Linked DNA regions of Homo sapiens: regions 1 and 3 are each linked to region 2. The links come from fine-mapping of genetic effects on gene expression. A gene starts in region 2. Each other region holds a variant in brackets. All regions are shown on one strand. Distances are from middle to middle.

Region 1 (9,382 bases), 220 kb before region 2:
TCAGGCTCACTGACATACGACCGCAGCTCCACCTGTGGGCAGAGTCCCAGGTGATGTGACCTGCCAGTGTCACACCCCTTTACCTCTCCCCACATGTAGAGTGGCAGCCCCAGGGTCCCCCGCTCACCCTGGAATCCCCATTCACACACTGCCCCAGCTCCCGGTCTCGCTTCCTCTCGTCTGACTGCCGCTTGAGGCCCCGCACAGATGTGTGCCGGATGATGGTGGCCTCTCTTGGCAGAGGCGGCACAGCCGGGGGCTGGTCCTCTGGGCTGTAGAGTTCGGGGAGTGGGGGCCTGGGAGGTGCTTCATCTTCCTGCTGAGAAAGAGAACCAGACCAGTGGTCAGCGAGACGGAGCTGGAGGGAGGACTGCTAGGTACTGCCACAGTGGAGGTTTAAAGGGTAGGAACAGGCCACATCAGAGCCACAGAACATGACTGCCTCAGCCAAGGAGCACTCACACTTCCCCTGGCGGAGCAGTGAAGAAGGGACATGCTCTGCTCCTCTATCCCCTCAGAGGTATACAGTTTCTATTCCTCCAAGTGTTACCTGTATAACTGTGTCCTGAAACCCAGGACTCAGGTCTCCTGGGTCCATGCCCTCGGTGCTGTGCTGAACTGCTCCCTCCGCTCATCTGGAGTGCACATCGCAGGCAGGCTGCTAACCCTGCCCTGACTTCCATGCTTATCACAGCACCACCTACCTGGAGAGTAACATCTACCCACTCAGCAGTGCTCAGCCTGAGCCGGCTCATTGGCCCTACACGAGCTCTGGCGCCTTCAGCAAGGTGGGGACCTGAACAAGGACAGAGTCTACATCCTCCTGGCCTTTCTATCAGAAATGTGCATGGTTACAAAATATTTCCTCCTTCCTGACTCAGACAGAACAGGCGGTCAGGATGAGTGACTCACTGCCTACCATGCAGTTCATTCCCTAGAATGTGATGAATGCAACATTTTCCTTGAAACTCCCTGTCCACAGTGTTCTGTGAGGGCTGTGGTTCCTCTACATATCAACAGACCGGCCCCTGGTTGCCATGAACACCCACTCGCAGGACTAACGACCATCATGCCTTCCACCTCCTAAATTCCCTCTTTCTCGGTCTAATTTGGTTTTGTTTTTAAGAATTTTGCAGAGTTCAGGAAAGGGCACTCCAAGCTCTTGGAAAGTTCAGGAAAGAGCACTCCAAAGCAAAGGTTTATCAACAATCTTCACTGATGTGTGAAAGTTAAGCCATCTGCCTAAGATACGCACTGGTTCTCTGAGGATCCACAGTTTCCAATCCTGACAAGATATCCGAATCACCAATTTCTAAAAAGCTCCCCAGAAAGATAAACATAAAACATTGATTGCCTTTGATTGAATGGAATGTCTGGAGGCAGAGGGTGGGAAGGAGACATGTTATTATGTACTTTTTTATATCTTTTGCTTTTGTATCTTTTGAGAATATTATCTAATTTATTTTTAAAAAGACATTAAACTCAAGAAAATAAGTCAAATAAAAATAAAAGAACTATAGCCACATGCAACAATGTATATAAATCTCACAAACATAATGTTGAAGAAAAGATGCAAGACACAAAATAGTATATAGAATTATATACCAGCATAATCACAGTGTTTAGGAGTCAACACAGGTACTAAAATTAAAAAAAAAAAAAAAGGCAAGGGGATTATTATCCAAAAAGTCAAGATTGTGGTTACTTCTGGCAGACAGGAAGCAGCTTGGCCTGGGAAAGAACCCACAGGCTTCTGGTTGCTGGCAGTGTTCTATTTCTTAGTCTAGCTGTTGGTATAAAACAGGTGGTCTCTTTATTGTTATTTGTTAAATTATATAATCCTGTTTTATGTCATTTTCAGGATGGATATTATTGTTTCACAAATATAAATGGGTTTTATTTTGTTTTGAGACAGGGTCTTGCTGTATTGCCCAGGCTGGAGTGCAGTTGTGTAATCACAGGTCACTGCAGCCTCAAACTCCTGGGCTCAAATGATCCTCCTGCCTTAGCCTTCCCAGTAGCTGGGACGACAGGCAAGCAGCACCACGCCCATCTTATAAGTGTTAAAAACAAGTAAGTAATAAAACAAATGGTAAAACTGGCAAACACACATATATTCCTAGGAGAGAGGACCTCTCCTGGTGATCCTGATGCTCACCCAAGCTGAGAAAGCCCTGCCTGAGAGCCACAGATGACCAAGCTGAGGAGGAGCCTCTGTGACCATCTACAAAAGGGAAAATGAGGAGGCTCAGGGAAGGGACGGACTTGCCTGAGGACACAGTGAGAGAATCAGTCCCGGAATCTGGGTGTCCCAGCTCCTATGCCAGTGCCTTTTTCCCCTACGCCCTGTCCCAGCTGGCAGCATTCTGCCCTATGTTGGCAGCCATCTGCCCCAGACATTCCTGCTGTTTGTTTTGGAATTTTCCCTCTCCTGTTTTAGGGCTAGAGCTCCAGTCCACCTCTTGGATCTGGGATTGGGAAGGAGATCTCAAGATGCTGAAATCCACAGTGACTCTCTGGCTGGGTGCTGGGCCATATCCTGGGTCCAGCTCTGGGCCCTGGACTATGGCTGGAAGCAGGTAGATGGTGAAGACCAGGGCAGCAGAACTCATGTGTTTTACCCAGCACTGTGCACTGACCTCATCAGAGGTCCAGGCACACACAATGCCCAGGTAAGTCTCCTCCAAGCCTTTGTTGGCAAAAATCTGGAGGGCCCCATTCCGAGGTCCACTCTTCTATGGCTTCCCTGCACTGGGACCAGCCTCATTGTGTTCTCCAGCCAAGGCTGGCCTGGCCCTGGAGGCGTGAGCTCTCTTGGGACCTGACCACATCTCCTATTTCTTTAAAGTCTCCTGCATTCCCAGACTCTGCCAAGAGCTTGGCCCCTTTCTATGCCAGGCAAACCAAGGTGCTGGCCCAGTCAGCCACAGAGGCCACAGACCGGATCTGGGACTGAAAGCCCAATTAGATGGCAGATGGCACAGAATAAAAGAGAAGGGCCAGGAGATGTGATTGGATTCACTAGTTAGCATGGAGACATTGAGCAAATGTCAACAATTTAGGCTCTTAGTTTTCTTCTCTGTGGAATGGGGATACTGCTCTTGCTGTGTATACTCTGCGAGGTTATTTTAAAGATCAAAGCATCCTCACAACCCAGCCCAGTGCTCAGCGGCGGGTGAAGGGAAGGACACTTTTCCACTGGACTGAACTCACTGCCCACAGGCTGTGTAACTGCAGGAGAGCCCCCTGCGGATTTGCACAAAGGTTTGCATGGGGACAGCTTCGTCCACAGCCACACACCTCTCTGCAGATCACAAACTCCACCCTACTCAGCACGCTCACTTCTTCTTGGTGGGCCTCAGTTTTCCCAACTGCAAAATGGGAGAGTTGGGTTAGATCATCTTCCAGGGCTCTTCCAGTTCTGACAGTCTAAGGCACAATAGCAGGGAAATACTACTTTTTAACTGCTTGTGACTAAGGACTCCTTTAGGACGCTGGCTGGGTCCATTTCCCCAAGTTTTCCCAGGAGTTTCTCTCCCAGGAGAAGGTAATCTGAGGACAGAGAGGAAACAATGGCATTCAGCTCCTAGTTATCACTACTTACAACTTTGGGCTTCGCCTTAGTTGGTGACTGAAGGGGGGATGTCACTTTCCTCAGCTGGGGTGGGTGAGGTCGGTACGGCACGTAGGTTTGCAGCTGGGGGAAGAGTCGAACCTCCAGAGGGGTCCGCACAGGGCTGGTGGGAGGACTGGGCTGTGGGGGCGGCTTGCTCTCAGAAGTTGAGAGTGAAGGCACAGGCGGGTGAGGAAACAAAGGCACCGTTTTTCTCTCTAAGGGGCATAGAAGGAAACAAAGCACGGGATGGAACAAAGACCCCCTTCCTTGGAGGATGAGTGGAGTAATTTAGCACCTCGAAGACTCAACCTCCCCAAGGGCCATCCCACCCACCTGGTTCCCAGCCTTCCACCCTCCCACCACCCTGCCCCCAATCAGATCCCCCACATCCAGGAAGATGAACATCTCACCCGGATTTTTTACTGACTCCACTAGAATTCTGAAGTTCTCTTTATTTGCACTCAGGCCTGCAGTGACATCTTCAATTCTCCATAGATCTTTCTGTATCTGCGATTTCTCCTGAGGAAGACGAAGTGGTGGGTTTGCCTTCTTAGCTCCTTACAAGTTTCTTCTTAGGACTTATCCTACCATTTCAGACAGAGCCCCCCGCCCTGAGGGGCAGCATCCCCTCTGGAAACCCCACTAGTGCTAGAACCAAGCCTGCTTCATAGCTTTCTAGGTAAGCATAGACAAGGAAAATGCCCACGATCCAGGGAGAAATTTCAGAGTAGCTTTCAGCAGTCCAGCTTGCCTACCTAATTTAAAAACAGACTGCCGTAAACACTGTGCCATTCCGCTAAAATACTGTATGACATAC[TTAGAG/T]TAGTCAATTTCGTAGAGACAGGAAGTACAACAGTGGTTGCTGGGGGCGGGGGAGAGGGAAGAATGCAGAACTATTTAATGTGTATAATGTTTCAGTTATACAGGATAGAAAGTTCTGGAGATTGGGCGCACAAAAATGTGAATGTACTTAACACCACTGAACTGTATACTTAAAAATAATCAAGATGAGTCGGGTGCAATGGCTCTTGTCTGTTATCCCCGCACTTTGGGAGGCCAAGGAGGTAAACACTTGAGGCCAAGAGTTTGAGACCAGCCTGGCCAACATGTGAAACCCCATCTCTACTATAAATACAAAAATTAGCCAGGCATGGTGGTGTGCGCCTGTAATCCCAGCTACTTGGGAGGCTGAGGCATGAGAATCGCTTGAACCTGGGAGGCAGAGGTTGCAGTGAGCCGAGATCATATCACTGCACTCCAGCCTGGGCAAAAGAGTGAGACCCTGTCTCAACAAAATAATAATAATAAAGGTGGTAAATTTATGTTCTACGTATTTTACCACAGTTTTTTCCTTTTTTTTTTTTTTTTTTTTTGAGATGGAGTTTCACTCCTGTTGCCCAGGCTAGAGTACAATGGCGCCATCTCGGCTCACTGCAACCTCCACCTCCCAGGTTCAAGCATTTCTCCTGCCTCAGCCTCCCAACCAGGTAGCTGAATTACAGGCGCCCACCACCACATCTGGCTAATTCTTGTATTTTCAGTAGAGACGCGGTTTCACCACATTGGCCAGGCTGGTCTTGAACTCCTGACCTCAGATGATCTGCCTGCCTCGGCCTCCCAAAGTACTGGGATTACAGGCGTGAGCCACTGCACCTGGCCTTTACCACAGTTTTTTTGAAAGGCACTGTCCTATGTAATCATGACAGAAGGGAAGGCAAGGACTAGAGTTTACACCATCTCTAGGATATAAAAAACATTTTTAAAAAGTCAGCTGAACCCGATATTTGAGGTTTAGTTAAAAATACAGTAGTGAATGGAATATTAGTTGGCAATAAAAAGGAATGAAGTGCTGATGCATGCTACAACAAGGATGATCCTTGAAAACATGTGAGGGAAAGAAGCCAGTCACAAAAAGCCACACATTACATAATTCCATTTATAAGAAATGTCCAGACTAGTCAAATCAGTAGAAACAGAAAGTAGATTAGTGTTTGGCAAGGGCAGAGGGGACGCTGGGGGAATGAGAGTGACTGTTAATGGATACAGGATTTCTACTGGGGGATGATGAAGTGTTATAAAATTGATTGCGGTGACGGCTGTATCATGCTGTGAGTATACTAAAAACCACTGAAACGTATACTTTAGAAGGGTGAATTTACTTATTTACTTATTTATTTGAGATAGGGTCACTTTGTTGCCCAGGTTGAAGTGCAGTGGTATGATCAAGGTCACCGTAACCTCAAACTCCTGGGCTCAAGTGATCCTCTCGCCTTGGCCTCCCAAGTAGCTAGGAGTACCGGAGCATGCCACCATGCCTGGCTAGTTTTTCTTTTTCTTTTTCAGTTTTTGTAGAGACAGGGGTCTTGTTATGTTGCCCAGGATGGTCTTGAACTCCCGGCTCCAAGTGATCCTCCTGCTTTGGCCTCCCAAAGTGCTGGGATTATAGGCGTGAGCCACCATGACCAGCCGAAAGGGTTAATTTTATGACATGTGAAATATATGATAAAGCTGTTAATTTTTTTAGCACAATAAGAGTACAATTTTTATATATCAATTAAAAAAAAATTATAAACTCCAAAAAAATACATATCTACATACAATGGGGAAGGACCTAGGCTATATGATCATGTGCATTCTGACAACCAAAATCGAATGGGAAGAGGATCTAAAAGAGGTGCAGAGGGGTCTGATGGGGTTAAGGGACTACGGCCATCTCTTGACGGGGCTGTTTAAACATCAAATGTAGTATTCTCTTGACTTTTAAGTTAAAATGGGGGAAAGATAGCCTTGGTCCCACCCCATGGACTAAAATAAAGGCAGGCTTCCCACCCCATCTCCTCTCGAGGCACCTAGCTACCCCTCAACTGGAAGAGTTCTTGCACTGCATGAGCCTCATGGACCTGCCCAATACTGCTCATTGATCCATCCCTACAGGGCCTGGCACTTAGCAGGTTCTCAGTGCATACATGCTACGTGAATAAAGGACCAGTCATGTAAAAATTCCCTGAGCAAATACTTTCCAACAGCCAGGACAACAGAAGTCCAAAGCCTCCTGTCCCAAGGTGGGGCTCACAGTTCTCACTCTCTCTCTCAACCCCTCCAACATAAAGCACATCCTCAGGTCTGGCAAGCTAATAATGGGTTTGATTCTCAGCTCCATGCCAAAGCATGAGCATCCTAAAACAGACAGGTGTATTACCGAGCCCAGGGCATGTGTATGTAAGAGGATGACCTCTAGGGCTGAAGTCCCCAAGCTGAGTGTTGAGAACAGGTAAAGAAAGGGATTAAACGCAGTCCTCTTCCTCCTCCATAGCTCCCTGGCAAAGCTCCCCTGTCAGCCACTTTCTTGCCCCCCTGATGCCTTTCTGTCACCCCCACATGTGAGAAAAGAACAGAGAGCAGAGAATAAAAAAGGCTGGAGAGTCCCTATCCTTCTCCAACGGTGATGGAATTTTGGGCCTTCATAATGAGGGGAGGGGAATTTTGGGGGAAATGAGGGGGTGGAGTTTCATTCCTGCCTCCTCCCACCACACTGGGTAGAAAGGCTCCTATGTGCTGCTTTCAGCAAAGCCTTGAACTCACTGTTTTAGCCTTGACTGAAAAGGCTATTTTCCTGCAGCCAAACCTGACTACAGGGAGGCGAATTTCTAAGCCCTGTTACTGAGAATCTGCACATGGGGCTGCAAGTGCATCTGCAGTGCTGATGATTTTTCTAGGGCTCTAACAGCCTGCCTGGCCTAGAATGACACCAAAGAAGCTAGCACAGTGCCTGCTCAAAGCAGGGCTTTGTTAGCTTCCCAGGTTACTGTGCCACTTAGGGAAAGTGTGAGCAGTGCCACAGGCAAGGTGGAAATCAAGATGCAGGCTCCAGGCTGGCCTATCTGAGAGTAAGTCATGGGGCTGAGTTCTCCAGGGCGTCTGTGACAAAGACCTGTCACAGTGTATCTATTTGCTTTTGGGAGGGAAGGGGGAAAAAAAAAAGGATTCTAGGCCTGCTATATGTTAAATCACCATGACATAAGGCACAGTAAAGACACAAATGGCCAATAATCATACGAATAGATATTTAACCTGCTAATAACTAAATAAAAGCAAATTAAAGCAAGATGCCATTTAGTAGACTAGTAAAACTAAAAAGATCAATTACAAGTGCTGACAAGGATGTGAGCAAATAGGTCCAGTACTTTCATTTGCTGTGGGTAGGAAGATAAACAGGTGCAGCCCTTTAGAAGGTGGTTTGGCATATCCATCAACTTTTAAGATGTATACTCATTCCAACCCCAGCAAGTCCACTCCTAGGAGCCTATCTTACACAGATACTTGTAAACAATGTGAAAAGGCAGTTACACAAATCCTTATCACACCACCATTTATAAAAGCAAAACGCTGAAAATAATTAAATGCTATCAGAAGAGGAATGGCTAAATAAAGTAGAAAACACCCAGACTATGAAATAGTATGTAACAGTCAAGAAAAACAAGTTTAATTTCCTTAGACTGGCGCTGCCCAATACACCTTTCTGAGATGATAGAAACCTATAATCCCTGCTGTCCAAGACAGTAGCCGATAGCTGCATGTGGGTATGGAGCACTTGAATGAGTCTGGTGTAAATGAGGAATACATTTTGAATTTCAGTTACTTTTAATTAATTTATATTTTATTGGGCAGCATAAATTTTGGATTAACTGTCCTGGAAAGATTTCCACGATATCAGGTTATGACAAAAAAAGTGAGTTGCCAAATAATGTGTAAGTGTGATCCTCTTCAAGTAAGCCTTTTACCTGCTCCCATTCCTGAATAAATCATATGATTCTATGCATGTGCATATTTTTGAAAATGCATAGAAAATGGTCTAGAAGGCAATGCCACCAATAGATAGCACTGATGACACATAGGGAGGGTGATGGGAGGGGCAGAAAGGGAGAGGGGGAAGAGGAACTTTTATATCATTTTTTGTTTTTGCTTCTTACTGTTTTGGTCTTTTCAAAGACACGTATTCATGTACCATTTGTGTAATTACAGGAACAAAGAATGAAAAGCTTAAAAAAATTACTGCTAAAAATAAAGCAAAAAAAAATTACTGCTAAAAAAATTCAGATCACTGAAGTCCAAGAAAATAGGTATAACCTGGGCAGTTTTATAAACTCATAACCAGAAATAATTGAAGGACTTTGTCAACAACATTCACCTAGTATTTTCAAGTCATTACGGTAAATGCTGCGGCTACAAAAAAGAGTAGTGAAATGTTAGCCAGTGTGGATGAAGAGAAATTATGGGAGGAAAACGACCCCAACAGCAGCAGGAGATAGACAAGTGCTGGGGAGAGTCTTGTAGACCAGCCCTGAGCCACAGGCGAGGGTCTCCTCCACGTGGTCCTAGGCAGGGCTCTCTGGGAACCATCTCTGCATGAATAGAGGGACAGCAGGGCCCTTGGAAAAGCCTCAGGGCCCACACACCTACACCCTACTCCAGAATTTCCTTCAACTTTCTGGGGTGAGGCTAATGTCTGGAGAGTCAACATACTCATTAAATCACTTAAACAAAGAGCCTTGGTTAGAACTATCTTATCAGTTAGCAAGCCCAGCACCAAAAGTGGCCCAGCAAGGTGCCTCATACACAAGAAGCCTCAATTAATGCTTGCTGAATTCAAACACACTTATTATGTCAGGGCCCTGAAAGGAGAAGATATAGATCTTAAGTCAGGGGAGAAAAAAACAGGTTATTTTCCACTTAAAAAATTGTGAGGGTGGGGTGGAAACCTGGTTA
Region 2 (10,865 bases):
GGAGTTTTCCAAGACCTGGAATACCTAGAAAACTCATTGGGTCTCTTTAAAACACTGATTCCTCAAGAGATGCCAAGTGCCTACTCAGCTCCCAGCCCTGGGCTGGGTGCCTAAGTCACAGAAGTGGGGAATAAGATGCCTGCCTTCAAGGAACAGCCTTGGCACAGGCAAGGTGGCTGAGCCCCTCTTCTCTGCCATCTCCTCATTGCCTCATGACCTATTTAATGCCTGCTGTAGGGGGAACGGAATTCACAAGGTTCCATGAAACCCCTGAAGAGCAGCCCAGTGTAATACTCTAACTCCCATGGCCTCTTCTAGAAACTTCTCCCTCATAGGTCCCATGTTTGAAAAAGCTGTGTCTGCCAAATTGTATTTACTAATAATCAATGTCTTCAATTTCTTACTAATCAGAGACATGTACCACCCCTAATCAACATAGGAGACCAGGGGGTACTGCCCTTCCAAAGTACCTCAATCCCCAGAAAAAGCAAAGATGGAGTCTGGCCCCATAAGCCTTGGGGAAGCCTAACTCAGAGCAATGGCATATGGGCATTCATCTCCTTCAAGATGCATGGCCTGGGGTAGGAGCTACCACTACTACTGTGGCTATCACATGAGGGACCAAAGACCTATGTTCCAGTCCCAGCTCTAACACTTCAGCAAAATCATTGAACCTTCATGGACCTGAGTTTCATCATCTGAAGAATGGGGATGATTCTTCCCCTCCTGCCTCCAGGGGCTGCTATAAGGATCAAATAAGAAAAGACACAAGAAAAAAAACCATCTGCTATAGGAATGTCCAGGATTACGGCAAGATTCTATGTCTGTAAAACGAAACTAGTAGTAGTTCCTACCTCATCAAACTATTGTGAGAATTAAATCAATGACAGTTACAGAACAGTTCCTAGCATTTTTCAAAGACCCAAAAAGATTAGGCTGTTATATAATTATTACTACTATTATTGCTACTTCTGTTAATGACACTATTATCACAATTACTATTATACCTTGCTACCCAGCTAAGGGATTCATAGTAGAGAAGTGCTAGAGTACAAAAAGTCTTCGTTTTATTTATTTATTTATTTATTTATTTACAGACAGGGTCTCACTCTGTCATCCAGGCTGGAGTACAGTATCACAATCATAGCTCATGGTAAACTCAGACTCCTGGGCTCAAGCAATCCTCACACTTAAGCCTCTCAAGTTGCTAGGATTACAGGAGCATACCACCATTAATTTTTTCATTTTTTGTACAGATGAGGCCTCTCCGTGTTGCCCAGGCTGATCTTGAACTCCTGGCCTCAAGTGATCCCCTCGCCTCCGCCTCCCAAAGTGTGGAATTGCAGGCATGAGCCACTATACCCAGCCAAAAAATCTTTTTAAAGGGGTTATCAACATCACTTAGTCTAGAACTGGGAGAACCAACAGTAGATTTCTTATACATTTTGTCCCTCATTAATGCAAAATTGAACAAAAAGTGCAGAAATCAAAACAAAAATTCACCTGCCTAACCTCAAGCTTTTCTGCTTCAAGAAATGGACTCCGAGGCCAGGCACAGTGGCTCATGCCTGTAATCCGAGCACTTTGGGAGGCTGAGGCAGGCGGATCACTTCAGGTCAGGAGTTTGAGACCAGCCTGGCCAACATGGTGAAACCCTGTCTCTACTAAAAATGCAAAAATTAGCCAGTCATGGTTGTGCACACCTGTAGTCCCAGCTACTTAGGGGGTGGCCGAGGCATGAGAATCACTTGAACCCAAGAGGCAGAGGTTGCAGTGAGCTGAGATCGTGCCACTGCACTCCAGCCTGGGCGACAGAGCAAAGCTGTCTTTAAAAAAAAAAAGAAAGAAAAAGAAAAGAAAGAAAAGAAATGGACTCTGGAGAGTATTAAAACATTTGCTGGCCAGGCATGGTGGCCTGCATTTGTAGTTCCAGCTACTTGGGAGGCTGAAGTGAGAGGATCACTTGGCCCCAGGAGTTCAAGGCTGCAGTGAGCTATGATTGCACCACTGCACTCCAGACTAGGAGACAGAGGAAGATTCTGTTTCTTAAAATTTTTTCAAAAATTAAAATGTTTTAATCTGCTAAATATGAGGAGCAACTGAATACATCCTGTAAAACCTCACACAACTTTCCTGTGCAAGGAGCCATTAGGAAAAATAAAATCAGCCATGTCAATGCTTTGTCGCTCTCACTTTATGAGCCAGATTAGAGGAGGCTCCTGCCCTCAACACAAAAATCAAACATTCAGAAATGCTCACGGCAAAGCTAAGAAATCAGACAACAGTAAAACATTTTTCATGTGGGGGGCGGGGGATGAGGGAGAGAACAATTACTCCCAAAACCCTTAAGTCTCTCAAAAAATTGTCACAGAAGGACGTCAGAAGTACAATCACCTGCCACAGGGCCCTGCCTTTGAGGGTAGGGAACACTGTCACACATTGCTTTTTCTAGGCCTGGGAGGAGTCAGCCAAGGCCCTGGGGGCACAGGAGCTCACTGTAGGAAAATCATTAGGGACCTCACAGACAAGTTACCATGGAAGAGTCAGCAAAGGTGTGGAAGGCTGTGCTCCAGCCTCCAGAGTCCCACACGCGGCCTCACACACCCAGCCCAAGGCTGCACCTGGTACTTTGGGACACTTGCAGCCCTTCCTCCCGCCAAATGAATGATGGGCCCTGCCCCTGGGTGACGCTAGTGAGATGCAGGCCATGGATCCCATCCCTCTCACCTTCTTAGAAACACTGCTCCAGCAACTGCCCCGTCTCTTTACTGCAGCATCGACTTCTTCCTCTCAGTGGGATCATTCCCATCAAAACAAACATGCTGTACAATCTCCCACCAAAAAAAAGAACCCTCCCTCAAACCCACATCCTCTCCAATTACCGGCTAATGTCTCAACTCCACTTTGCAACAAAACTACCTGGAAGATTTGCCTAACTGACTCCCTGTCTTCACCCCGTGTTTTATCTTCCACCTACTCCAGTCAGATTTTGTCCTTTAAGGCTTCTGTGACCATGCATTCTCCTGGGGTTTCTCCTACCTTCTCAGTCCTTCTCAGTCTCCTTGCTGGCTTCACCTCTCACCCCTCTAAACACTGCTTTGACCATCCAAAGCCTCAGAACATCTCTCTTCTGTCTGTACTCTCTTCCTAGGGGATTTCATCTAATCCCATGGCCTTGAATAACATCTATTATACCCAATGGGTCTCTTCTGTCCTCTCTCCCCACCAAGCTTCAGATCACACTATCTGACATACTCATATCTCAAATGTAAGATGGCAAAACAAGATCTCATGATTCTCCTCCACCCCAAACCGGCTCTTCCCATCTCAACGATATGAATGCTATCCACTCAGGTGCCCAAGCCCTGAGGAGTCATCTTTGCCTCTTCTCTTTCTCCCACAGACTATTCAGTCCATCATGAAGGTGTGAAGAGCCTATTTCCTAAACACAGCCTGAATGTGACCACTACTCCCTGTCTACTGTGCTACCACCCTCAGGCAAGCCACTTCTAACTCCTGCCTGGAAGAGGGCAACAGCCTCAGCTGCTCTCCTGCCTCCCCCTGCAGTGGCCACCTACAATCCAATCTCCTCACAGTGATCGTTCTAAAAACACACACCAAATCATGCCATTTCCCTGCTTAAAACCCTCCAATGACGTTTCACTGGGCTTAGAATAAAGTATGAAAATTCCTCACCCCGGCTCACAAAGCTTTGCGGCATTTACCTTTCTCCTACCTGTGACCTCTCCTCATGCCACTTTCTCCCTTGTGCACCACATTCCAGCCTTCCTGCTCCTTAAACTCCAAGCTCTTTTCTGCCTTAAGCCCTTGCCCTGGCTGTTCGCTCTTCCCGAAATGCTTTGCCAACTCATCATCACATGATGTCTCCTTCTTGTCATTCAAATTTTACTTTAAATGTTGCCTATTCAGAAACACCATCCCGATCTCCCAGTACAACCAAGCCACCCAGTCACTCCATGTCACATCACCTTATTTTAACTTTCTGCACAGTAGTAACCACGATCTGATATTATTATTTGTGTTTTTTACTTATTTTCTACTCCCTTCCCTCTCCTATTAGATTGCAAGCTCCATGAGCACCTAGAACTTTTCTGTTTTTTGTTCCCAATGCCTAGAACAACGTGTGAACGTGTGGCACACAGGAAAATTGTAATAACATCAACTGATGCAGTTATGAGCCAGAGAGGCCCACTGACAGCAAGACTCTGATGGCCCCAGCCAACTCCCCAACTTCACATACACACATATGAGGCAGGGCAATAGAACCGCAGCAAGGCCCTAGTCCTTAGGTCTGTAAATCTCACCCATCAGTATTTTCAACTATTATGCAAGAACCCAAACCAGAAAAGGAGGTTCCGGGGTTTTCTTGAAATAGGCTGCTTTATTCCTAACAGTAGTAGTTCTGACTCACAGTCGCCGAGGTACACCCAGTCAGTACTAGTCAGACCACCGTCCAGACCTTTGGCGAGCTGATTCATTCAGTGAACAAACATTTACCGAGTGCCTACTTGCTGTCCGGCACTGGGGCAAGGGGTCAAAGGCAGTGTCTGGCCTCCCGGAGCTCAGCAGGCAGAGGGAAACACGCTGCAACACAGACTCCCGCCGGAGTGGGAAAGCAAAGCCTGTACTGGCATAGGAGCCTGACCCGCGCCTTCACTTACTGCGCCCCAATCTGACATGGACTGATCCTACAGACCCAGGGTAACCTGGCTGGTGCGCCAACACTCCGGGGCTTTTGCGGAAAAGTCGCCCGTGGACTAACGGAAGCACCAGCAATCCCCCGGTTCAGCTCCGGCCGAAGAGACGCGGAGCGCTCGAGGAAAGTCATTGGTTGACCAGTTCCCTTCCCCACCCCCTCCCTCCCCGCAGGCCCGCGCAGTGGATGGAGGCCGGGGGCGAGGTTCCGACTCTCCAAGACCATCCCAGAGCCTGCGGCGGGAGAGGGGGCGTCCTCCTAAGCGAGATTCCCCTAGTCTCTCCCTCTCCCCACTCCAACCCCGCAGGCCCACACCAGGACAGAACTTCTCGTTCTACTCCTCCCACCCGAGCCCATCCAGGTCCCGGCACTCGCCTCTCCCGGCGGGGCGCAGCCCCAGACCCTAGAGGGGAGGCGTGCCCAGCCCGCACACCAGCACCCGAATCCAGCCGGATTGCAAGGTCCAGGGCGCAGAGTCTGCGGCCTCTTCCCCCCCGGCCCAGGTCCCCAGCGTAGGTGCGGCCCCCACCGCCTTCCTCTCGGAGGCCGCCAAACAACTTGGGCACACAAAACGTTGAGTGTGGCCGCGGCGCAGCGCGCGCCAACGAGCCCGGGCCGGCGGGAGCAGAGGAAGGGCGGGGCGCCCGGCGGGAACGGGGAGGGACCCCCCCCCCGCGGCACAGGTGCGAGCGCGGCGGCCCCACTCACTCACTCGATGAAGTAGCTGGCGCCCTCCTCCGTGAAGCCCTCCTCCCAGCCGCGGGGCAGGTCTGCGGAAACGCCAGAAAAGTCGGGTCAAACTTGGGCCGCCGCTGCGCGCGCCCCCCACCCGCCGGCCCGGCGCCCACCTGAGCGGATCATGTGGCCCGAGTTGACGGGCTCCCCGGTGCGCGGATGCAGCCAGGTCGTGCAGCGGAGCTGGTCACTGCGGGCAGAGAGGTGCACCTGTTAGCGCCGCCACAGCCCGCCGGGTGCCCGCCCGGCCCCCGCCCCCGCGCCCCCACCCGCGTCCCCGCGTCCCCGGGTCCTCGCGCCGCACTTGATGAAGAAGACGCGGCCATCCCGGCACACCCCGTAGGACCAATGCTCAGGTAAAGTGTCCCGCCCGACCGTCGCCGCCGCCATGTTCGCCGAGCGCGGAGCCGCCGCGGGGTGGGGGGGAGGGGGCGGGGGCGCGGGCAGGGGCGGAGGCGGGGGCGGTGGCGGGGGCTCGGCCTGCGCGTGGCCCGGCGGCGCCGCGAGGCGCTCCATCCAGGCGCGGGCTCCTGAGGGAGCGACCGCCCGGCCGGGTCCTGGCGCCCGGAGTTCGCAGCCGCTCCGGCCAACCCAGCGCAGTGCCCGCGGCCTTTGTCCCCGAGCCTTCCCCGCCCCCAGCCTGCTGGCACCGGCGCTCCCCTTTGCCCCCGAGGCCGGGAGACCCGGGCGGCGCGGGGGGCCGCTGGCGGGGGCCGCTGGCGGGCGCGCCTGGGCAGCTTCGGGGCGCGCGGTTGGACCCGACCAACTCCGAAAACGGCGAGCGCCCGAACGCTCAGTAAACCCCAGCCGACCCGCACCACAGAACTTCCCGACCCGGGAACTCCGCTTGTGTGTGAACCAAGTTAACACTCAGGTTCCTGCCATATTCCCAGCCTCCTTCTCTTCCCCTGTAAGGTTAATCGAGTCCACACGGGATTGTTGTGTAGATTAAATGAAGTAACAATCGCATAAAGTGCTTAACCGGACCATGGCATGTAGTAGGTGCTCTATCAACGGCAGGCCGAGCGCGATTTCATTTTCCCAAGTTTTCAGCTGGGATGTGAAACAGGAGGGAGCAGGGTTACCGCCACACACCACTGAGGTTGCAGGGATCGCAAGCTCTTGCCTTCAGTTTCTGTCAAGTAACAGAAAAAAGGGGTTTTGAGGGCTCGGCAGCACGTCCATCTCTGGAAGAGCGGTGGCCAGGCGGGGCCTCTAGGGGGCCCTGCAAAGCTCTTTGCAGTGGCGGCACCCTCTCATATTCGGGTCTTTACTCCTATCTTATCTCCTCGGGGAGCCCTCCCTGAGCCCTCTGCAAAGAAAATCCTTCCCCTCCTTCCCTCGCTATTTCATTACTTGTTTACATTTAATTGATATTTGTGTTTGTCTTGTTTGTTGTATATTAGTTCCAACATGTCAGCTGGATGAGAGAAGGGGCTTTGATCTACCTCATACACTGCCTGGTCTCCAATGCCTGGAACAGCACCTGACTCATGTATGCATTACGCATTCAATAACTGTAGGATGGGGTGGGGCACGGTGGCTCAGGCCTGTAATCCCAGCACTCTTGGAGGCCGAGGCGGGTGAATCACTTGAGGTCAGGAGTTCTATTCCAGCCTGGCCAACATGGTGAAACCCCGTCTCTACCAAAAAAATACAAAAGCTAGCCGGGCGTGGTGGCGGGCGCCTGTAATCCCAGCTACTCAGGAGGCTGAGGCGGGAAAATCGCTTGAACCAGGGAGGCAGAGGTTGCAGTGAGCCGAGATCGCGCCGCTGCCCTGCAACCTGTGCAACAGCGAGACTCAGTCTAAAAAAAAAAACTGCAGGATGAGTGAATGAAACATACTCCACACTCAGACTCCCGGCCACACACACACACACACACACACACACACACTGAGCAAAGACAGAGCAGCAGCTGGGCTCCAGCTGTTGTCAGGCCCAGCCTTCTCGGGACATAGGCTCTGATTGATGGGAGGAGGCGCGCCTGAAAGTGAGACTGTATGCAATGTGAGCACTAGTTATTCAGAAAGGTGCCCAAACAGGTGGAATTAGGCTGGACCCTGAAGGACTGGTTAGGTTTGACTGGGAAAAGAGCACTCCAGAGGGGAGGGATGGGAGAGCATGCACATAATTTTGGGAGGGCTGTGAGATGTTGATGAGACCATAAAGGGGCCCTTCCTTGGGAACAGACAGTGGTGTTGGGGAAGGAGGCATTTATGAGTTAGAAGAGGTAACTGGTTGCAGAGGACGGGGGACACCTGTCTGAAGGAACCTCCTGCCTCTGAGGAGGTTGTTGAGCAAATGAAAATAGGAAAGCGGTGTTTTGCTAGCTAAACATTGATTTTAAATAATACATTAAATGGGCAAAGGGTATGAACCCACAGTTAATAGAAAAGTAATACAGATAACTTTTAAGCAAATGAAAAGATACTGAGCCACTTCATAATAGAAGAACTGCAACTTACGGTGAAATACTATTTTTTTAGATGTCAGATTGGAAAAGATAAATTAGAAAAGATATTGGCCAGGCGTGGTGGCTCACGCCTGTAATCCCAGCACTTTGGGAGGCTGAGGCGGGTGGATCGCTTGAGATCAGCAATTCGAGACCAGCCTGGCCAACATGGTGAAACCTTGTCTCTACTAAAAACACAAAAATTAACTGGGCATGGTGGTGCATGCCTGTAATCCCAGCTACTTGGGAGGCTGAGGCAGGAGAATCACTTGAACCCTAGAGGTGGAGGTTTCAGTGAGCAGAGATCACGCCACTGCACTCCAGCCTGGGTGACAGAGTGAAACTCTGTCTCATAAAAGAAAGAAAGAAAAGATATTGTAGAGAAAGACATTCTTGTTCATTGTTGATGGGACTTTAAAATGTTTGAGCCTCTTCGAAGGCAATTTGGCACAGCTATTCCAACCTCAATGTCTTGACCTAGCAATTTCATGTCAGGAATTTATCCTACATTAGTGCTTACATGGGGCACAAATTCCAGTGTACTAGAGTATTCACTGCAGCATTGTCAGTAATTACAAAGAACTGGAAATAACCTTAATGTCTATCAAAAAAGACCTGGTTGATTAAACTGGCACATTCCTCAACAACAACAACAACAAAAACAGAATGCTATGCAAGCTGTAAAAAAGAATGAGAATAGATCCCTACGTACTGATATAGAATGGTCTGTAAGATATTAAATGGGCCAGATGCAGTGGCTTGTACCTATAATCCCAGTACTTTGGGAGGCTGAAACATGAGGATGGCTTGAGTCCAGGAATTCAAGACCAGCCTGGGCAACATGGCAAAACTCCATCTCTACAAAAGATACATTAGCCAGGCATGGGGCGCATACCTATAGTTACAGCTACTTGGGAGGCTGAGGTGGGAGGATCACTTGAGCCCTGGAAGTTGAGGCTTCAATGAGCTATGATTGGGCCACTACACTCTATTCTGGGTGACAGAGCAAGACATCATCTCTAAATAAATAAATAAATAAAGTGAAAAGGCAGGCTACAGTACTGTGCATGTGATATGCTACTGTTAACATACAGATATAGTCCCTACACTGTCAAGAATCAGGTAAAGTGATTGCCTCTGAGGAGGGAAACTCTAATAGGAATGGTACGAGATTTACTTTACCTTGTTTCCCCTTTCATACTGTTTGATCTTTTTATCATTTAAAACATATACATATAGATACATAGAATAATACAATTCATTAATAGGTCCAATAAGAGACACACTGAAATTATCTCAATAAATGCCAAAATATGTAATCAATAAAACTCAATGCCTATCACTGATTTTCAAAATTATATGTTAGAAACTAAAATAAAAAATAGTGACAAAAGAGTATGCAGAGAAACTTTATGTCTCATACATTGCTAGTGGGATGTAAAATGGTACAGCCACTCTGAAGAATAGTTTGGCAGTTTCTTTAAAAAGGAAACTTTTTTTTTTTTGAGCCAGAGTCTCACTCTGTCACCCAGGCTGGAGTGCAGCAGCACAATCTCAGCTCACTGCAACCTCTGTCTCCTGGGTTCAAGCAATTCTCCTGCCTCAGCCTCCCGAGTAGCTGGAATCACAGGCATATGCCACCAAGCCCAGCTAATTTTTGTGTTTTTAGCAGAGTCAGGGTTTCACCATGTTGGCCAGGCTGGTCTTGAATTCCTGACCTCAAATGATTCACCCACCTCAGCCTCCCAAAGTGCTGGGATTACAGGTGCAAGCCACTGAGACCAGCCAAAAACTAAACACTTACTTACCATATAACCCAGTATTCACACTCCTAGGCATTTATCCCAGAAAAATGAAACATTTTTCCACATAAAAACTTGTACATAATTATTCACAGCAACTTTACTTGTAATAGGGAAAAACTGGAAATAAGCAAATGTCCTATGATAGGTAAATGGTTAAACAACTGTGATATATCTATACCATGGAATAAAACTCAGTAATGAAAAGGAATTGATACATACAACTTGGATGGATCTCAAGACATTATGTTGAGAAAAAAAAAAAGCCAATCTGAAAAGGTCTATAATGTTCTCAAAATATATTTTTTTTAAATGTAGAGATGGCGAACTGATTATTAGTGGTTGCCAGGAGTTAGGGATGGTGGTGGGGAGTGGGAGGATGTAAGGATGTAACTACAAGGGAATAGCATGAGGGAGATCTTTGTAGTGATGAAATAATTCTATATTTTTCTGGGGTTTTGTGTTTTGTTTTTGTTGTTGTCGTTGTTGTTGTTTTTGAGACAGAGCCTCCTTCTGTCACCCAGACTAAAGTGCTGTGGTACAATCTCGGCTCACTGCAAACTCCACCACCAGGTTTAAGCTATTCTCATGCCTCAGCCCCCCCAAGTAGCTGGGATTACAGGCACACACCACCACGCCTGGCTAATTTTTTTGTATTTTTAGTAGAGCCAGGGTTTCACCATGTTGGCCAGGCTGGTCTTGAACTCCTGGCCTCAAGTGATCCACCCTCCTTGGCCTGCCAAAGTACTAGGATTACAGGCATGAGCCACTGCACTGACCATAATTCTTTATCTTGACTGCAATCATAGTTATACACAAATTGACACTCAAATAAAATAACAGAAGTATATAAACACATTGTATCAATGTCAGTTTCCTGGTTTTGATATTGTTCTGTAGTTTAATAAGATGTAACCATTGGGGGAAACTGAGTGAAGGGTAAACAGAGACCTCTCTATTATCTTTGCAAATTCATGTGTCTATAATTATCTCAAAATTAAAAATTATTTTAAAATGTGTTAGAAAATTACAAATAACCAAATGTTTCTTTTGAGAGTATCTCTCTTAGACAAACAGAAACATTCTTTAACAATGAAACATTAAAGACCAAAGATCATATGGCTAGTTATGTAACATAGACCAGACTCCAACACCT
Region 3 (10,865 bases), 45 kb before region 2:
AGAGGGGGAACAAACGGCCCTACTTTGTGGCCTAAATCTTGATGAACATGTCCCCTGGGGAGCCAGGAGAGCTATTTGTACAGCCAGTCAGAATGACCAGGGTGTGGCCACAAGTGTCCCATTCGAGTAGCCCTAATCTGGCAGCAGGTATCCAAAAGGACAGGGACACCCTGGCATCTGATCAGTAGGTGCACTGCATTTGGACAAAAGAATTAACTACCTGTTTCTCCAACCCTGCCCCCAGCCACCTCTCATTGCTTTTATGTTTAAGGTCTTATTCTTACTTTATTATATTCGCAATGTTGTGCAACCAACGCCACTATGTTCCTAAAACTTTGTTACTACCTCAAACAGAAGCACTCTTAGTTATCAACAACCCCCGATTTCTCCCTTCCCTCAGGCCCTAGAAACCTCTAATCTACTTTCTGTTTCTATGTATTTGGCTATTCTAGGTATCTCATAAAAGTGGAATCATAGAATTTGTCCTTTGGTAATTGGCTTATTTTACTCAGCATGATGTCTTTGAAGTTCCTCTGTGTTGTGGCATGTGTCAAAATTTCCTTCCTCTTCAGGGCTCAGTAATATTCAATTATATGTATATATCACATTTTGTTGATCCATTCATCTGTTGATGGAAACTTGAGTTCTTTTCACCTGTTGGCTACCATGAATAATGCTGCAATGCACCTAAGTGTACAAATATCTGTTTGAGCTCCTGCTTTCAATTCCTTTGGGTATATACCTAGACATGAAATGGCTGGATCACAGGGTAATGCTATTTAGATTTTTGAGGAACCACCAAAGCAGGGCAGCTGCACTATTTTACTTTCCCACCAGCAATGCACAACACACAAGAGTTCCAATTTCTCCACATCCTCACCAATCCTTGAGCTGTACCCAAGCCTAGGAAACAGCCTTTCCCTCATACCCCAGGATGTCTGCACACTCTTGGAACTTCCTGAGGGGCCTTGGGGTAACAGCAAAGGACTGCAACCAGAGAAGCAACTAGGAGTGTTTCACTCTGGGATTCCTTCAGTTTGGTAAAACTCCAGACAAAAAGCATGAGGGCTGGCTGGGCAGGGCCTTTCCTGCTTCTGAAAATCAGAGCACCTGAAATTGGAGGTCCAGCCAGCTGTGCGCTCTCTTACAGGGCACTGCGCTGCAGTAATAGAGCATTCCTTAGATACTGGGGGACACCAGGGGTCTCCAAAGTGCACAGCACTCAATCCTGAGGTGCTCAAGATGACCCACGGAGTTCTAGAAGAAAACAGTAGAACACCTATTCAGGTTTATTTTTATGCCATCCTTTTACAATTGTGTGTGTTTTCATTAGCACAGCAGGTATGTATATAATTTATAAATGAGCATACATGTGTTGGGGCAAATGCTCATTTATTAATGGGATATACATGATTTAAAAAAAAAAAAAAAAGGTTTGGGCCAGATACAGTGGCTCATGCCTGTAATCCCAGCACTTTGGGTGGCCGAGGCAGGCAAATCACTTGAGGTCAGGAGTTTGAGACCAGCCTGGCCAACATGGCGAAACCCCGTCTCTACAAAATATACAAAAAAAAACCCAAAAACATAAGTCAGGTGTGGTAGCGCGTGCCTATAGTCCCAGCTACTTGGGAAGCTGAGACACAAGAATCACTTGAACCTGGGAGGCAGAGGTTACAGTGAGCCAAGATCACACCACTGCGCTCTAGCCTGGATGACAGCACGAGACTGTCTCAAAAAGAAAAAAAAAGGTTTGAAGACCCCTATCTTAGACCAATTCTTCCTTTGTTGTAGTTTTTTCCTCTGAATTTTAATGTATTGTGTCAATGGCAATGAGAAAGATATCTGGGGGAAATAACTCACAAAACCCACCACCCTCATCCCCTTAGTGCCTGACACTTCTCTATTGCCAACTCACCTTTGGGTTCTCCTACTCCTGGGGGAAGTGAGAGACAGGCATCTGTAGACAGAGATGCAAGGGGAGGGGAGAATGGGCAGTGTATTTTCTTCTCCCTGAGACACATACCCTACTCCAGCTCAAAGCCCAGAAAAGGGAGGTCTGTATCCGAGAAGTGAAGAGCTCAGCTTTGGAATCAGAGATACCTGTGGGTGAGTAGTGGCAACCCCATTAACTTCTGAGGCAAATTAGGTCATTTCTTTTGGCCTCGATCTTCCCATCTATGAAATGGCAACAAAATACTAAGTATCTATGTCAGTGAGTGGCTGTAAGGAGTAAATGAGAGAGTCCAGATAAAAGCACTCAGTGCACTGCCTGCCCAGCACATTCCAGCTCTTTTAATAAAACAGGTAGAAAGGGCCAGGGGTGGTGGCTCACACCTGTAATCCCAGCACTTTGGGAGGCCAAGGCAGGTGGATCACCTGAGGTCAGGAGTTCGAGACCAGCCTGGCCAACATGGTAAAATCCCATCTCTACCAAAAATACAAAAATTACCCAGGAGTGGTGGCGCGTGCCTATAGTCCCAGTTACTCGGGAGGCTGAGGCAGGAGAATCACTTGAACTCAGGAGGTGGGGGTTGCAGTGAGCTGAGATCGCACCATTGCACTCCAGCCTGGGCGACAGAGCAAGACTCCATCTAAAACAAACAAACACATGCACAAGACACAGGAGAAGGAAAACTCTGGATAGAGGTGGAGAGAGTGAGGACAGATGCAGAAATGGGACTGGAGGCATGGTTGTGCATGTATGTGTGTGTGTGTGTGTGTGTGTGTGTGTGTGTGTGTCTAGGCTGCTCACAGTTATAAGAAACACCCCAGGTATCTCACAAACATCTACCAGGCAACCACTAGTGTGACACACCTTGAGGGATGAAGATATGAGTCAGGCAGAAAGTCCACCCTGTGGAGCCCATTTCCAAGGGCCACACTGTGAACCAGAAGCCCACTAGGGTACTGGGAAGAGCAAGCAAGGCTCAGGGGCATCTGGAGTCACTAGCCAGGGTGCACAAGTAAAACTGGGAGCTTAAGCAGAAGGGGCGTAACTGAGATCCAGGGCCTCTAACAAAAGGTACCAATCTGCAGTAACACACACCACTCAGAATCCAAGTGGAGCCTTGGGTTCCGTTTCCTTAAATTTTCCATTCGGATTTTTTTTTTTTTAACCTTTTCTCTTTTCCAGAGCAAACTCTGCAGGACTTTGTCATCTCAGATATCAGAGCAGAAACTCCACTCCCTGCTTTATTCCTTCAGTCAGCCCCACCCCTGCTCTGGCCATGAAGGTTTTATTGCTGTCGTCCACCTGGAGCCTGCCTGAATTCAGGCCACCGTTTCTACTGCCACCACCTTCACTGGGCTATCTCACAGCAAGAAGAGCTGCCCCAGCCTTGTGGCTTCATGAAGTGGCGAAATGGTTCATCTACAAATGGGCTACACATTAAATTACTTTTCAGGAACAAGGAGCCAAGCCTTAGGGCCTCCTGGAAAGGCCACCGAAGATACGGGGCCCTTGAAACTCTCCCAGTCAGCACAAAATCACTGATTCCAACAGAAATGCAGAAAGCATTCTAAGACACACATGCTCTCAATGTCCTTTGTTTTTAAATTCTCTACCTTATTTTTTAAACTGGCTGTTAAATTTCAGCTCAACAACTCATCAAGTACATTATTAACTGGCAAACGCTTCTGTGGCTTTGCTAGTTAAAGTTTAGAAAAGAACATTCCCATTAAAATATAATTTCTCCAGCAACCTCTAGGATAGCGCAGAAACCATTCCATTAGGGCAGACCCCAGCTAATCCACACTCCCTACCACTCAGTCAACACAGGATTTCCCCAAGTTGGCTTCTGTTCTCTTATAGCAAAATAAGCAAAAATCTAGGTGATTCAAATTGACCTTTGGCTGGGGAGCTCTAGGCGATGCTGGTCATGCTGTGTCTCTGCCACACAGGGGAAGGTGAGGGGAGGAAACAGCTCTGCTTAATGCCATGAGGCCCTCCATTCTTGGGGCCCACCCCTCACAAGGCACAGTGTAGGCACAAGTCACCTCCTGTCAGAGAGTCCTGGGCCTCACAGCACCCTAAGTCCAGGAGAGAACAGCCCCTACTCCATCACCCCTGCTTTGCCTCCCTCCAATCAGCTCCCCTTCTGCAACACTCAGGTGCACTCCAAACCAGCTTTCTCTGACGGACAGGCCAGGAGCCCAGAATGAGCACCACACAAGCACCTGTTTTATGCTCTCCAGGCACCAGAGTGATTCAGGCACCCCCATTTGACACACACACACTTGCCAGCTTGCTGCCTCACCCCACCCCTCACCAGCCAACTTCAGACCTTTCTTTAGACTAATTGCCCAGAAAGAGGTACCCATCTAAAGATAAGGAAGTCATTTCCTGTCTGACTACCTCCCATTCTCCCTTGGCATGGAAAGAGGGGCTCAGGGCATATAGGAAAGTGAGGAGGAGGCCTGGAGAGACGGAGGGAAAGAAGAAGGGAGAAGAATAGATAGAACCCCACTTAGCCCAAGTCAAAACCCCAACTGAGATCTAGAGCAGGCAGAGGGAATAGACTGCTAATGGGCTTTACCCACAGGAAGTCATCTAGGTGTCAAAGGACAGTTGCCAAGATCCTGAGGGGTTTGGCAAACGTACCTTGAAGTGAGGAGGCCTCACACACCTGCTGACACTCATCAGTAGAGATCTGCCTCCCTCTCCTCCCAAACAACCACAAGGGAAACTGTTCCAGACTCAGCTCTGGGCACAGAGACTCATGCACAGCACACACGAGGCTCCACAGTGGGCCACATGGAAAAGGCTGCTCTCCAGCTCTACTCCTGCTCAACTCATGGGCAAGCCAGCGCTGAGATCAGGCCTCCTCCTGGCCATGTCTGTGGGCTCAGGTCCTTCCAGGGCAAGGCTCTCTGCACTGCCCTCTGTCCTCCAGGGGTCCTCTGGATGCTGTTGTCCAACTGTTTCTGCCAGGCCATCTGGGGTGGTTCACCCCATGCCACATCAGATTAATGCAACATACTGCCAGAATTGCATGCCTGCACACCCTCCTTGAAGGGCTGCTTTGTGTTTCTTGCTTACAATGGAAAAAAACAATTTTTGCAGCGGAACAACACAGTTTGGAGTCTTCAATAGAGCAATGGAGGCCAAAGCCATCCAGTACACCCATGACTCCCCCACCACCAACAGCGCTTGCA[T/C]GCAATGGCTGGCATGATAGGCCTGCAAACTCAACAAGCCTCATAGGGATTTCACATCCCCCACTTAACACTCTATACACTGCAGACTTCTCAGGAACACGCTAGTACCTGACAGCCTCCAGAAACGGATCTACTACTGCTTTCTCTAATATGCCCCCCATACCCACCTATGCCAAGAAGTTCTTAATGTCTAACCTAGGTCCTTCCTACTTAAGTCCATTTAGGGCCTCAGTAAAAAAGCAGAATGTGTGATGTCCTTCCTGGTGACCTTTAATATATCATGAACCCAGAAGGCCGAGCTTATGGGCCATGCAAAGGAAACTGAAGGGGTTTTAGGGTGTGTGGGAGGAGGTGAGAGAAGATTCTGGCTCTTTTGATGCAACTGACTGCCTGGTGCTGTCTCACTTTCCCATCTCCCATCCCCGCCACTCCCAAATGTCAGTTGCATCATATCACCTGACTGCAGAGTGCTTGAGCTGTGAGGGAGAAGCAGGAAGCCAGATGACAGAATTAGAGCTAAAAGATCTTAACAAGCTGATTCTCTGGACCTAATACAGCCATATGGAATCTAACAGAGATAAGCTTAAAGACCTAAATTTGAGACCAGCAGTTTAAGAGGAGAGAGAGAAGCTGAGCAGCAGTGCTTGATGTAATATGATTACATCTTAATAGGGAACCTATTTTGATTTTAGGTTGAATTGATTCAAGTATGATATTGAGGAAAAGACAGATGATGATCCCATGCTATTCTGAGCTGGCCAGTCACCAATTCTACATATTGCAATATGATGGACATGCATTGCTCATATGCATCCCTTCACTGGCAGAAGTCACACCTCCCATATCGTCATGCTGCAACTGTTCAGCCACCACGCTCTACCCCTAGGACAGGCCCATGTTCCAAGCAGGGGATCATAATCTCCCCTAAGAAGAGATGTATAGCTCCTGGGAGAGTGAGCATTTCTCTTCCTTGACAAAAGAGTTAGCAGACTTGAAAGATGGAGAAGGCAGGGCCCCCAAAATGCCCTTTGAGCACCAGAGTCCAACAGTGCCAAGGCCAGGTCAGGATTACACTGGGAGTTCCCAGATACTGGTGCCAATATCCTTCCTTTTCTCTTGAAGCTAGTTTGAGTTGGGTTTCTGTCACTTTCAACCTGAAGAGCTTACTAGTACATACACTATTAAGAGGATTACAGCTAAAGGGGAATATGCCCAGAGTGATGTCAAAGACAACGAGTAAACTAAAAGCCAAGTTTCATGAGGGAACAAGGATGATTTAACCTGGAAAGGAAAACACATAGGGCCACATGGGAGCCTCTTCAAACACTTAAAAGGTGAAAACTTTTTCTATGTGGGGACAGAGGACAGACCAGGACATTGGTAGAGGTTACAGAAAGGGGGTTTTCTCAGAACTTTGAATAATACAACAAAACAGATGAATCTGAACCTACCTCCTACTCCACTCCCTCAGACTCACTGGATTAAAGCAATTCCCTTTCTCACTCCAAAGTTGTTTCTTATCTTGAACAAATGGCAACTTCTAGAAGCCTCAGCTTCCAACCTTTATAATGGGGATAATAATCCTCCCCTACCAGCTTCAAGGTGTTATTTTAAGGATCAAAAGAGAAAATGTAGGCTGGGCACAGTGGCTCACTCCTGTAATCCCAGCACTTTGGAAGGCTGAGGCAGGGAGAATTGCTTCAGTCCAGGAGTTTAAGACCAGCCTGTGCAACAAAGTGAGACCTTGTCTCTGTAAAAAATAAAAAATAAAAAAAATAGCCAGATGTGGTGGTGTGTGCCTGTAGTCCCAGATACTACGGAGGTTGAGGCAGGAAGATCGCTTGAGCCCAGGAGGTCGAGGCTGCAGTGAGCCGTAATCGCACCACTGCACTCTAGCCTGGGCAACAAATCGAGACTCCATCTCAAAAAAAAACAAAAACAAAAACAAAAACTAGATACTGTGCATGAAATCACATTGTAGAAGAACAATTAACGAGGAATTGTCTATAACAGATTAGTTAAGGAAGCAAGAATCAAAACTATATGTACAACATGATCCCAATTTTATAAAATTTGTATTTGCAATGAGAAAAGACAGGAAGAAAAAAATGTTAATAGTAGTTAAACCTACAGGATTATAAATATTTTTTCCTTCTTGGGGCTTTTCTCTGCCTTCCTAATTATACAATAAATAGGTCATCTTTTAAAATCAGAAAAAGTTATATATCCTTTAAAGTGCTTTATCAACTGTAAAGAGCTATGCAAACAAAATAATGTGGGTGTCAAACAGGTCTCCCGGACTTTTCTGATCTGAGCATAGCAATGAGTCCTTGATTAGAGAATATCTTACTGTGTTTTTAATAGACAGAAACAGACGAGTATCACAAAGAAAGCACTTCAGTCTTAATTCAAAAGACCCAGATCTAAAATTCTGCATGACCTTTACACAAGTCAATTTCTTCACCAATAAAAGGAGGAGAGTGACAATATAGCTTTGTATGTAAGTGGATTTAAACACTCACTGAGAACCTCCAAATGCCAGCCTGTTCTGTAATTTTCTTTTATCTACTAATGTACAGGGAACAGTTTCCATTTCCTTAGTTAATATTTCACAGCACCATTTTTAATAGATGCATAATAATCCACTGTACAGAGGTGTCATGACTAATTTAGCCAACAAGTGGCAAAAGTTTTTTGTTTGGTTTGATTTCTGAAATACAGATATTTAATCTCTTCAGCAACCTTTCCAGGTTAGGTGAGTTCCAAGTGCTGAACTGTATAGGATACGCTCAATAATGGAAGCTGTTATTACTACCATAACCACTATTACTATTACCACACAGGTGCCAGGGACATATCCAAGTTCAGTTGAGTATTTGGGGCTTTGTTAAATGTTTCTCTGGAACCCAAGAAAGGTCAGGGCAGGAGATACATATTTGAATTATTATCTGGATACAAATACAGAGAAAAACATTTTTATTCTATTTTTTTCTTTTATAGTTTTTTTAAATATCTTTTTTTATTTTTAAGTGAAGGGATATTTTCGCAGATGTCATTAAGGACTCTTATCATTTTCCTGGTTTTTTTTTCTTTTTTATTGAGACAGGGCCTCGCTCTGTCCTCTAGGCTGGAGTGCAGTGGCACCATCTCAGCTTACTGCAACCTCTGCCTCCTGGGTTCAGGTGATTCTCATGCCTCAGCCTCCCAAGTAGCTATGATTACAGGCATGTGCCACCACATCTGGCTAATTTTTATATTTTTAGTAGAGATGGGGTTTTGTCATGTTGGCAGGCTGGTCTTGGACTCCAGGCCTCAAGTGATCCACCCACTTTGGCCTCCCAAAGTGTCAGGATTATAGGCATGAGCCACCATGCCCAGCAAATTTATTTTAAGTTTTTGAGATGGGGTCTCACTCTGTCTCCCTCGCTGGAGTGCAGTGGCATGATCCTAACTCACTGCAGCTTCAACCTCCCAGGCTCAACTGATCCTCCACCTCAGCCTCCTGAGTAGCTGGGACTACAAGCGCACACCACCACACTCAGCTAATTTTTGTATTTTTTGTACAGACGGGGTTTTGTCATGTTGCCCAGGCTGGTCTTAAACTCCTGGGCTGAAGCAATTCTCCTGCCTCAGCCTCCCAAAGTGCTGGGATTACAGGCGTGAGTCACTCCGCCCAGCTATTTTTATTTTTGAACCAGTCTCTCTGTTGCCCAGGCTGGAGTGCAGTGGTGTAATCACAGCTCACTGCAGCCTCCATCTCCAGGCTCAAGTGATCTTCCTGCCTCGGCTTCTCAAGTAGCTGGGACTGCTGGTGCGCACCACCATGCCTGGCTATTTTTTTCTTTTTTTTCAGTTTTTAGTAGAGATAAGGTCTTCCTGTGTCACCTAGGTTGGTCTCAAACTCCTGAGCTCAAACAATCCTCCTGCCTTGGCCTCCCAAAGTGCTGGGATTACAGGTGTGAGCCACTACACCTGGTCAAAACATATTTTAAAATCTTGCCTCCTTCTTGTTTTCCAAACACCTCCAAACATAAATAGCCATTAACTTACCAATACAATTACACACGTGCTGTGACTCAGCAGCTGGATTTTCATAAATGCCTAAAAAACTAGAAACCTCGGCCAGTAACCATACACCTTGACATAATAAAACAAAGTGTTTCCTAAAGAGGCATAAGCCCCAAGGCCTCCAGAAAATCCATTGGCCTAGATGGTTTTATAGAAAGAAAGTGGATTAATAGCCAAAAGAGAGAGGCTTGACTCTCGCTTGCTCCTTCCTTGAATCAAAGACCCTCTGTTTCCCTTTTTCTCCATTTCTGGCCCATCTGCCTTACAGGCTTATTGTGAAGACTGGGTGGGCCCATGTTGGAAAGCACCATATGACCCAAAAAGTGCCTGGATGTGTACTTTTATGTACTTTATGGTCTCCCTCTGATCCCACCAGGCACTTGCCAAGCCCCAGATCAGCTCTCTCACAGGGCCTTCCAGCCCCTTCTTCCCTCCAGATGGGCAAGAACACAGGCCACTAGAAAGCCATCACCTGCAGTGTTCAAATCATGCCCCACACAAGGTAAAGAGGTGATGTGGGGGCCAGAATCCCAAGTAAAGGGCCACCAACACAAAGACATCAGACTTGGCAGGGACCACCACACAGGGCTCCCAGATCGACCCCCTTCACACCACCATGCAACTGCCTCAAACTCTCCCCTGATGGCAGCAGAGGTGAAAAGAGAAGTTTCTCTTGGTGCCCCTTTTAAAAGCCATGCACTGTGCTGAATCATGATGTGAAAGAGTCTAACCACATGGTTCTCAACCCTCGCTGCACATTAAAATCACTTGGGGGCTTAAAGGAAAATACTGCCAGGGACCCAACCTCAGAGATTCTCATTCAATTGCAGGTGAGGCCTGGGGATCAGTGAGGGACAGGAACTTAGACTGAGCAGCTGCTTCCTATGATGGGCCCTATGCCTTGAGCCCACCCTGTCTGCCTCCAAAGTCCATGCCCTCCCCTGTCACCACTCTGCCCTCCAACCTGAGTCTCCCTCTGGAGTGTTCCTCCCCATCCACTGTGAGTATCAAACATGAAAGGCCCTGTTCAGTCGGGTGACTATCCACTCCTGCCACATCACCCACTTCCTCCCTGTGGACCAGCCCAGTCCTGGACAGTCTTGGACACCCCCAGGACATTCCTGCCATTGTCTTGAGCCTGCATGACCCCTCTCCCACCTTCTACCAAAGGGTTCTTCTTTATCATCACATACCTTTTACAGTGTCAATGTTATTCAACAAGCACATTTTTCATTTTTATTTGTTTTAAACTTTTCACTCTGAAAGAAAATTTAAGACTCACTTAAAAATTTTAAAATAGTTCAAACCAGATGTGGTGGTGCACGCCTATCATCCCAGCTACGTGGGTAAGATTCTCAGGTGGGAGGATTACCTGAGCCCAGGGAGGTCGAGGCTGCAGCGAGCCAGGATTGTGCCACCACACTCCAGCCTGGGTGACAAAGGGAGACCCTGTCTCCAAAAAAAAAAAAAATTGTTCAGAGAATTCTTTTTTTTTTTTTTTGGTAATGAAAACCACAATTTCGTCATTGGGTGCCACCCGTTTTTGCTTAGATTCACACTAGTTCCTTAGTGCTAATTAGCAGATACTGAAATGATCTTGACAGACTGCGCAAAATATGGAACGCTTCACAAATTTGCGTGTC

Which allele goes with the higher level. Alleles are on the strand shown, and positions count from the first base shown. SD is a standard deviation of normalised expression in the study named. Not every link is listed here.
In carriers of allele C in region 3, the expression in sigmoid colon of the gene that starts at base 5,855 in region 2 tends to be higher than with T alone (small effect, 0.18 SD a copy in GTEx).

The links.
Region 1: its variant is fine-mapped to the expression of PLEKHA7 in monocytes (TOPMed, PIP 0.93).
Region 3: its variant is fine-mapped to the expression of PLEKHA7 in sigmoid colon (GTEx, PIP above 0.99).

The regions. Positions count from the first base shown.
Region 1 is chr11:16,790,884-16,800,265 of GRCh38, forward strand. It overlaps PLEKHA7 (pleckstrin homology domain containing A7), which reads right to left. Exons shown (of 27, transcript NM_001329630.2): 18 at 4,027-4,135; 19 at 3,605-3,831; 20 at 128-316; 21 at 1-32. Among named protein-coding and RNA genes, the nearest start is that of C11orf58, 57 kb to the left of the region's middle. RefSeq lists enhancers at 1-162, 163-663. The variant TTAGAG/T (reference allele first, on the strand shown) is at 4,434.
Region 2 is chr11:17,008,560-17,019,424 of GRCh38, forward strand. PLEKHA7 (pleckstrin homology domain containing A7) reads right to left here and starts at 5,855. Exons shown (of 27, transcript NM_001329630.2): 1 at 5,757-5,855; 2 at 5,566-5,642; 3 at 5,430-5,487. The coding sequence starts at 5,842. RefSeq lists an enhancer at 3,617-4,378 and a silencer at 4,263-4,557.
Region 3 is chr11:16,963,589-16,974,453 of GRCh38, forward strand. The region is part of intron 3 of PLEKHA7 (pleckstrin homology domain containing A7); the gene reads right to left. It also overlaps the pseudogene LOC124902817. Among named protein-coding and RNA genes, the nearest start is that of SNORD147, 43 kb to the left of the region's middle. The variant T/C (reference allele first, on the strand shown) is at 5,155.